2 linked regions of the Homo sapiens genome follow. The protein of the gene in region 2 interacts with the protein of the main gene of each other region in a biochemical or structural test. Each region holds a gene or a part of one and is shown on either strand. Other genes may lie near its edges.

Evidence for each region.
Region 1: the proteins of ODC1 (region 2) and RSC1A1 form a complex in vitro, tested with the Homo sapiens proteins (one study listed by BioGRID).

Annotation. Positions count from the first base shown.
Region 1 is NC_000001.11:15,658,249-15,662,694, forward strand, and holds RSC1A1 (regulatory solute carrier protein family 1 member 1), read left to right. Parts: upstream 1-1,464; 5' UTR 1,465-1,620; coding exon 1,621-3,474; 3' UTR 3,475-3,785; downstream 3,786-4,446. UniProt on the Homo sapiens protein: Mediates transcriptional and post-transcriptional regulation of SLC5A1. Inhibits a dynamin and PKC-dependent exocytotic pathway of SLC5A1. Also involved in transcriptional regulation of SLC22A2.
Region 2 is NC_000002.12:10,445,275-10,449,811, forward strand, and holds the start of ODC1 (ornithine decarboxylase), read right to left. Parts: upstream 3,054-4,537; 5' UTR 2,847-3,053; intron 2,739-2,846; exon of another isoform or gene 2,200-2,738; intron 1,576-2,199; exon of another isoform or gene 1,440-1,575; intron 1-1,439. UniProt on the Homo sapiens protein: Catalyzes the first and rate-limiting step of polyamine biosynthesis that converts ornithine into putrescine, which is the precursor for the polyamines, spermidine and spermine.

The sequences.
Region 1 (4,446 bases), on a different chromosome or scaffold from region 2:
AAGCAATTCTCCCACCTCAGCCTACCTAGTAGCTGGGATTACAGGCACCCACCACCACGCCTGGCTAATTTTTGTATTTTTAGTAGAGATGAGGTTTCACCACGTTGGCCAGGCTGGTCTCGAACTCCTGACCTCAGGTGATCCACCTGCCTCGGCCTCCCAAAGTGCTGGGATTACAGGCATGAGCCACTGTGCCCAGCCCTTTTTGATTTTTAATTAAAGATCTTACAATGGTCGGGTGCGGTGGCTCTTGCCTGTAATCCAAGCACTTTGGGAGGCTGAGGCGGGCGGATCACCTGAGGTCAAGAGTTTGAGACCACCCTGACCAACGTGGAGAAACCTCATCTCTACTAAAAATGCAAAATTAGTCGGGTGTGTGGCGCATGCATGTAATCCCAGCTACTCTGAGGCAGGAGAATCGCTTGGACCCGGGAGGCGGAGGTTGCGGTGAGCTCAGATGGCGCCATTGTACTCCTGTCTGGGCAACAAGAGCAAAACACAGTCTTAAAAAAAAAAAAAAATTCTTACACTTACATGCGTAGAGGTCAATTTTTAACTGGATTGGTGGCAAAAGAAGAGCTGGAAATGATGTTTAATGATACTATGATGCTTACACTGAGCCGTCTTGTTTGGGTGGTCTAAGGTAGCAGTGAATCTAAATAGTCATTGCCAGTTGAAAAACTATTAATGAACCATCTCCCTCCACATTCCCCTTTCTTTAAAACATTTAAATATTCTTAACTTAGTTGCACACTATTGATGTGATAAAAACTTATAAGCCTTTTAAGTTTAGAGTTGTATTATTTGGTAGGATGATGATTGTGATTTAATCTGCTGATCATTAGTTTACTTTTGTTTTCTGAGTCAGATGCTCACCCAGTTTTACCATGATTTTTGGAAAGCTTGGCTAGAAATAAAATAGAACATTTGCTTCTCTGTCCCCAAGCATTATGTTATTTCTTATTTCTCTTTATAATTCCCTCTCTGTCCAGGTATACCTGGTTTAAGACTTCTCATTTGTAACCTCAGTGTTCACATTTGAAACAAGAAAAGTGCATTAACATGAGAATCATTCTGGTGCAAAGATTCTCAGGATTTGTAATATCCTTAAGAATCACCCAAGGAGCTTATTGAAAATGCACATTCCTGGATTTACTCTCAAGTATGGTACCCCAGGGTCTGCATACTTCACAAGCGTCCCTGGTGGTTTTAGGGCAAGTGGTGAAAAAAGTACACTTGGAGAAACTATTCTAGAGTTGTAGACTAGACTAGGGAATAAAGAAACATAAATGTCCTTCATTCCTGAGCACTAACCCCGCCATTATGTGAATGCATATTAATGGATACTTAATCACATTGAATTACAGTATGCAGATTTTATTAAGAACATGTCTACCTCTTATTCTGATGCTGTGAATGTCTACCACAATGAGAAAGTAATTTTAAAATCATTTCTATTTGTGTAAGAGAAACCCGAGTTTGAGGACCTTATTTTATTCTACGCTGTTTAGATTTGTATCCTCTGGTAATTTAGTGGCATTAGTCACCTGCTAATTAATCTTTTTCCTTTCCCCTGTGTTCCATATAGAGAAAAGTGGTAAAGAATCTACCTCACTGGGAATGTCATCATTACCAACTTCAGATGGGTTTAACCATCCCGCCCGTTCTTCAGGACAGAGTCCTGATGTTGGTAATCCTATGAGTCTTGCTCGCTCTGTCTCTGCTTCAGTCTGCCCTATCAAGCCCAGTGACTCAGATCGCATTGAACCTAAAGCTGTGAAGGCTTTGAAGGCTTCAGCTGAATTCCAGCTAAACTCTGAAAAGAAAGAACATCTTTCTTTACAAGATCTTTCTGATCATGCTTCCTCAGCAGACCATGCTCCAACAGACCAGAGTCCAGCTATGCCTATGCAGAATTCATCCGAAGAAATAACTGTTGCAGGTAATCTGGAGAAATCTGCTGAAAGAAGCACCCAGGGCCTCAAATTTCATCTCCATACAAGACAGGAAGCTAGTTTATCTGTCACATCTACTAGGATGCATGAACCACAGATGTTTCTAGGTGAAAAGGATTGGCATCCAGAAAATCAGAACCTGAGTCAAGTGAGTGACCCTCAGCAGCACGAAGAACCAGGGAATGAACAGTATGAGGTTGCACAACAAAAAGCTTCACATGACCAAGAATATCTTTGTAACATAGGGGACCTTGAGCTTCCTGAAGAAAGGCAACAGAATCAACACAAAATTGTTGATTTGGAAGCTACGATGAAAGGAAATGGGCTCCCACAGAATGTGGATCCTCCAAGTGCGAAGAAAAGTATTCCATCTTCAGAATGCAGTGGCTGCTCAAATTCAGAAACATTTATGGAAATCGATACAGCTCAACAGTCCCTAGTTACTTTGCTTAATTCAACAGGCAGGCAGAATGCCAATGTCAAGAACATTGGTGCATTGGATCTCACTTTAGATAATCCCTTGATGGAAGTAGAAACATCAAAATGTAACCCTTCATCTGAAATTTTGAATGATTCCATTTCCACTCAGGATTTACAGCCCCCAGAAACTAATGTTGAAATACCTGGAACAAATAAAGAATATGGCCATTACTCCTCTCCAAGTCTCTGTGGCAGTTGTCAGCCTTCTGTGGAGTCAGCAGAAGAATCTTGCCCGTCTATAACGGCAGCCTTGAAAGAACTTCATGAACTTTTGGTTGTTAGCAGTAAACCAGCTTCAGAAAATACATCTGAAGAAGTAATCTGTCAATCAGAAACCATAGCTGAGGGCCAAACCAGTATTAAAGACCTTTCTGAAAGATGGACCCAAAATGAGCATCTTACCCAGAATGAACAGTGTCCACAAGTCTCCTTTCATCAGGCCATATCTGTATCAGTGGAGACAGAAAAATTAACAGGTACTTCATCTGACACTGGAAGAGAAGCTGTAGAAAATGTAAACTTCAGGAGTCTAGGTGATGGCCTGTCAACCGATAAGGAAGGTGTCCCCAAATCTAGGGAATCCATAAATAAGAACCGTTCTGTCACTGTAACCTCAGCTAAAACATCCAATCAGTTACACTGCACCTTAGGTGTAGAAATTTCACCCAAACTTTTAGCAGGTGAGGAGGATGCACTCAATCAGACTTCTGAGCAAACTAAGTCTTTGTCATCCAATTTCATATTGGTTAAAGACTTAGGTCAGGGCATACAGAATTCAGTAACAGACAGGCCTGAAACCAGAGAAAATGTCTGTCCTGATGCTTCGAGGCCATTACTTGAATATGAACCACCTACCAGCCATCCATCATCAAGTCCTGCCATTCTTCCACCATTGATTTTTCCTGCCACAGATATTGACCGCATTCTCCGTGCTGGCTTTACTTTGCAGGAAGCTCTTGGAGCTTTGCATCGAGTTGGTGGGAATGCAGACCTTGCACTTCTTGTTTTGCTCGCAAAAAACATCGTAGTTCCTACATGACTGTGGGAAAGTGGGCTAGACCGTTCTCCATTCCCTTTAAACAAAAGAAAGCTCTCTCTATATACACGCACACATACACACTCACCACATATACAGTATATATAGAAACCTGCAAGCAGAATGTTGAGCCAGATTTTTTTTAAAGATTTTTTTCGGCCAAAGTAATTTATGATCTTTTGTCTGATGAATTTGTCTATCCTACTTGTTAAAATTTAGGCCTTTTTAAATGTATTGGCAGTATGTGCATACAGAAGCTTTTTATTCTCATTAAGATGTATCCTGGAATAAAATGGATGGTTTTGTGTGTAGCATACTGTTTTAGAATGAGAGTAAATGCTTTGAAAAGCAGAAGCCATGAGAAATCCCACTACCCATCCAGCTAAAAACAGATGAACTCTCCACACTGTGACTGTGTGTCTGTGCTGATGGCAAGGTATGGTTTGCTGGCTCAGTTGTCAATTTAGAAACTTTTGACCACATAATTTGGTGTTTGGAATTCTACCCAGTGCTCTGTGTATCATGATTCATTAATTATAACAGGAAATTGGAGAATAATTGAATATCTTATCGTAGAGTGGTATGTTTTTATTTGTGTGCTTAGGATTTGACATTTTAATAGGGCGAGCAGGAGGGTTTAAATCTTGGGCTACTTTGTGCATCACAGGCTGCTGCATGGATTGCCATGAATCCTTATTACATTGGATGGGATATTGTGGGGGAGTTACAATGCAAGTGAAACGTGGTGCTACCCAGATTCTTAAAAGAACAGAACAACCATAATTCCATTTGCAGATGTCAAGAACTGTGAGGGAAAAATAATGGCCTAAACACTGGAATTTGCTAGAGTTTGGGTTTGCTAGCATCTCACTGATAACACCTCAACCCTTAATGACTAATGGTGGAATTAAGTTCAGGAATGGATTCATTGCCAGCAGCTTATTTCCTTTCTAGACTCTTCTGCCAGGAAGTTCT
Region 2 (4,537 bases):
AAATAGGGAATTTGCTGTCTACCTTAGGAACACATCGAGTTGAAGATGGGGCACTGGCTGAGCACACGCAGAGCTAATCATGCCCCGGATATGAACCACTCACTGGCCTGGTCATCCTAATTATTACTAGGCATAAGGTACATGATTCCATAAACCTTGGCAGTATAAGGACACAACAAAAAATACCAGGTTTTTCCAAGGCAGCACACTAAGCATTTCAAATATTTGTACCAAAAAAATCTAGCATGCAAGTTTCAGAAGCTTATCTGCACTTAGCTCACTGATATGGAAAAAAGTCTTATAATGGTCTGATTTATTTCAGAGCAGTTTCAGTTCCTTAGAAACTTAAAATAGCATTATAGACTTTTTTATTTTTTTTGAGACAGAGTCTCACGCTGTCACCCAGGCTGGAGTGCAGCGGTGCAATCTTGGCTCACTGCAACCTCTGCCTCCCGGGTTCAAGCGATTCTCCTGCCTCAGCCTCCCCAGCAGCTGGGATTACAGGCGCCTGCCACCATGCCCGGCTAATTTTTGTGTTTTTAGTAGAGACAGGATTTCACCACGTTGTCCAGGTGGGTCTCAAACTCCTGACCCCAGGTGATCCACCCGCCTCGGTCTTCCAAAGTGCTGGGATTACATTATAGCCTTTATACACAGCCATACAAACATTTCCTACTTCCACTAAGTCTTAGAATGATTTTTACTGACCAACAGGCATCATGGAAATGTCTGGAGCATTTGAGATTTTACGAGTTAATTTTCATGTATTAGCTGGGTATATACTTCTTAAAAACTGTAATCTTCAAGTCAACTTATCACATTGTATTACAGTTGCTGTTACCTGATCAGAATTCAGTATTTTTTTTTTTTTTTTTTGAGACAGAGTTTTACTCTTGTTGCCCAGGCTGGAGTGCAATGGCATGATCTCGGCTCACCTCAACCTCCGCCTCCTGGGTTCAAGCGATTCTCCTGCCTCAGTCTCCCGAGTAGCTGGGATTACCGGCATGTGCCACCACACCCGGGGCCTGGCTAATTTTATATTTTTAGTGGAGATGGCGTTTCTCCATGTTAGTCAGGCTGGTCTCCAACTCCCGACCTCAGGTGATCCGCCTGCCTCAGCCTCCCAAAGTGTTGGGATTACAGGCGTGAGCCACCACGCCCGGCTAGAACTCAGTATTCTTAAACCAGCGTTGCCTACCAAGTTTAGCAATTCCGGGAATGCCAACTGTCCTTACAGTCACTCTCGTATTTGCTTAGCTATGAGAATAATTTGGGGCTAACTTCACCAAAAAAGAAAAACAAGCAAGAACATCACTCTAGTAACAATAAAAGCCACTGTATTTTGCTTTCATCAAATGTGGCACCTTGTGAACCAGCTTTCTTAAAATTATTTATTTTAACCTTTAAAAATTTCTGCCAGGTAGAGCTTTCTTCTTTTCCACTGTGCAACCCACTTCAGTGCCAGCAGCCTACGGGCACAGAGGCCAGGCAATGGTTCGGGGACACAGTTTGCTCTGGCATGGGGTACTATGACAGGCCCAGGGTGACGGGCCTGTCATAAATCCAAACCCATGCATAGAATTTGCTTTAAAGCTCTATCTATTGTGACTGCTTGGCATTGTCAACCTCCGAAGTTGCCTAAATCACCCCTCGGAGAAGGGAAGAGAGTAACAACGCTAGCAAAACCATTTTTGTTACAGACATGGTTATATATTTTTGTTTATATGAAGAATATTTACAATTTAATAATAAATAGGCTCATGCAGTCTCGGACTGGGTCATTTGAGGCCTTATTAAATATTTTTAAGGCAATGTTCAGGCCTAAACTTGGAAAGTTTTGATTTCTTTTTAATACGCCAATACTTTTTTGCTTTTCTGTATCTTTTAAGGCGTTACTTAAGTAACTTACTTGAATATATTTTACTGAAGAACACCTTTCGGTCTTTCTGTAACAGCTAAGTTATTTAAAATGGTCAATCAATTAGCACAAGAGGATAATGTTAGAAGAGATAGGGGCTAATTCAAACAAACTTTGAAAAAAATTTCACAAATCAATTAAAGTCTGCCCAATTTTATGTTTAAACAAAGTCAGCCAACACATTCTTTGTCCTCCCCAGACATTCCTGAGAGGTTCTGCCTTCTACACTTTCACCAATTATTTCGACTTCGCAAACAGCACAATCAGCCTTTTCTGCAAACCTTAGGGCTGTCTCCCCTGTGTATGTCCGTTCATCTAAGCCAAGCTTTTCCGAAATCACCGAGTCATTCACAGTCCTTAAATAAACACCTCTAAGTCATGGCCGAGCATCTAATATCACAGCTACTACAGCAAGACTATCTTAGCTCTACCCACTCTCGCGGGTTTCCAAATTGGTGTCATCTGCTCTGTAGACACAGCGAAAATAAAAACTGGAAGGAAACTGAAGGCGCCAAGGCCGGGGCCCGCTCGTCTGTACCAAGGCGAGCCCGGGCTCTGCGCCCCTGCACCTGCTGCGCGGCCGCCAGGGCCTCCCCAACGGCTCCCCGGCCAGCGCGCGGCCGCCGAAGGGTTGGGAAAGAGGCCGGCGCGGGGCCGCAGGGTCTCCGGGTGGGTCTCCCCTAGGCCCCTCCAGCCCCGAGCTGTGAAGACGGGGGCAGAACGAGGCGCCCGGATCACCCTTATCCAGCCGCGGGAGAACCCCGGGCCGGGAGGAAGCGGCGCCTCAAGGTCGTGGCCCGCTCGGCGACCACGTGTCTCCGCAGGCCGGCGAGGCGCGCCGCACACGTGCCCGGGGCCCGGGGCCCGCAGCCCGCCCCGGCTCCCGCCCTCGCTCCCTCCCTTCCTCCGCGGCCGGGGAGTCCCTCACCTCAGAGCGCCCAGGCGCCGCAGGCCAGCCCCATGGGGAAGCGCAGACGCCGGAGCCTGAGTCGCAGCCGCAGGAGCGCTCGGCCGCCCCCGCCGCGCCCGTCAGCGCCTGGCTCCCGCCCGCCGGAGACGCCGGCCCGAGGTGGCGCCGGAGCTGCTGGCAGAGGGGCGGCGGGCGGCGGCGGCGGCGGCTACAGGAGGGACTGACAAAGCCCCACGGCACGCCGCTCCCTACTTATAGCACCGGCGGGTCGCCATGGAGACGCACCAGCTCAAACCAGCCACGATCGGTTCCGGCCGGGACACCGCCGGGGGAGGGGCGGGGGCCCGGCGGTGGCCAACCCGGGCCCGCGCGGAGCTGGTGGGGCGCCGGCGGGCCGACGTCAGCCGAGCCGAGCACCGCCTGCCCCACGCGTGGCCCCCGCCCCCGGCTTCGCGCCCCGCCCTCCCCGCCCTGCGGCCGCCTCTCCCCGCCCTCCCCGCCCTGCGGCCGCCTCGCCCCGCCCCGCCCTGCGGCGGTCTCGCCCGCCTGGAACTGGTCCGCGCACGCGCACGACGCCGCAGGCCCCGGCCCCGGCCCGCGGCAGCTGAACGGCAGAGCCTGTAGCTGCACAGCTGTGCTTCCACCTGGCGTTCAGTACCTCGTGCCCGAGAGCGGAAAAGGGAAATCGCGAGCGGAGGACCGATGTGCTGGCCACGTGGGCCCCGCCGGGCCGACTCCGGACCCTGCTGCCGCCCATTCCTCCGGTGCAAGGGACCTGGAAGTGATCCCGGTGCCGCTCTGCTCCCACCAGCTAGGGAGCAGAGGCGCGGGAGGGAAGGGGCGTCCCGGGGGTCGCCAGCACGCTGCGGGCAGGGCTGGCAGCCGCCTCCACGCCCCCGCGCTGGAAGCCTCGTCTTTGTAACATCGAGGTATCCTGTAACTAGATGGGTCCTGGCCTGCGGAGGTAGTTTCCCCTGTGAAGCCAGGGACTCAGCCAGGAGCGTGAGGGGACCCGGATCCTGAGTCTCCAAGCCGCCCACTACCCTCTGCTTTACCGGATGGAACTCATCAGTAACTAGGTATCTTTAAGGGCGGCTCCCTGGCGCGCTCTGAGAGTTACGGAAGTCCCAAAATGCTTTGACCGAAAACGTCTAAACAGTGAATACATAAAGCAAAAAGCCGCGTGGGAAATTCGAGTCCCTAGGAGCGCCCAGGGGACGCCTCTGGAGGTGGACTGCCACTCACTCCAGGCCACGCTGGAATGCCCGCACCAGGGAGGCACTGCACTTGAATTGGGGACACTTTTTTTTTTTTTTTTCATTTTTACCTTTCATTCCCTTTTGGACAATCCAGACAGGATATGTCTCTCCCTAGGGTGGGGATTTCGACTCCTTAGGGTGGGAGTACAGCCGATGAAGAGTTAAGGAGAGGAGTGGGTAGATCTAGATCTAGCCTTGGGTGGGTGGGGGCGGGGTTGGAGGAGCTCAGAGCACTGGCCCAGCGCTGCCCCCAACTTGCTGTGTGCTCTTGGACAAGTTATCTCCCTTCTCTGGGCTTCAGATAACCCAAGGATCCTTACATATCTTTATAGCTACAAAGCCCTGTGAGGTTTTGAAAAACTTCCTTGGTACCCAAAACCAGGTCTGAGGCACAGTCAGTGAATACCTGTTTAATGAATGCATGCATAAATGAATGAATGGATGATCCAG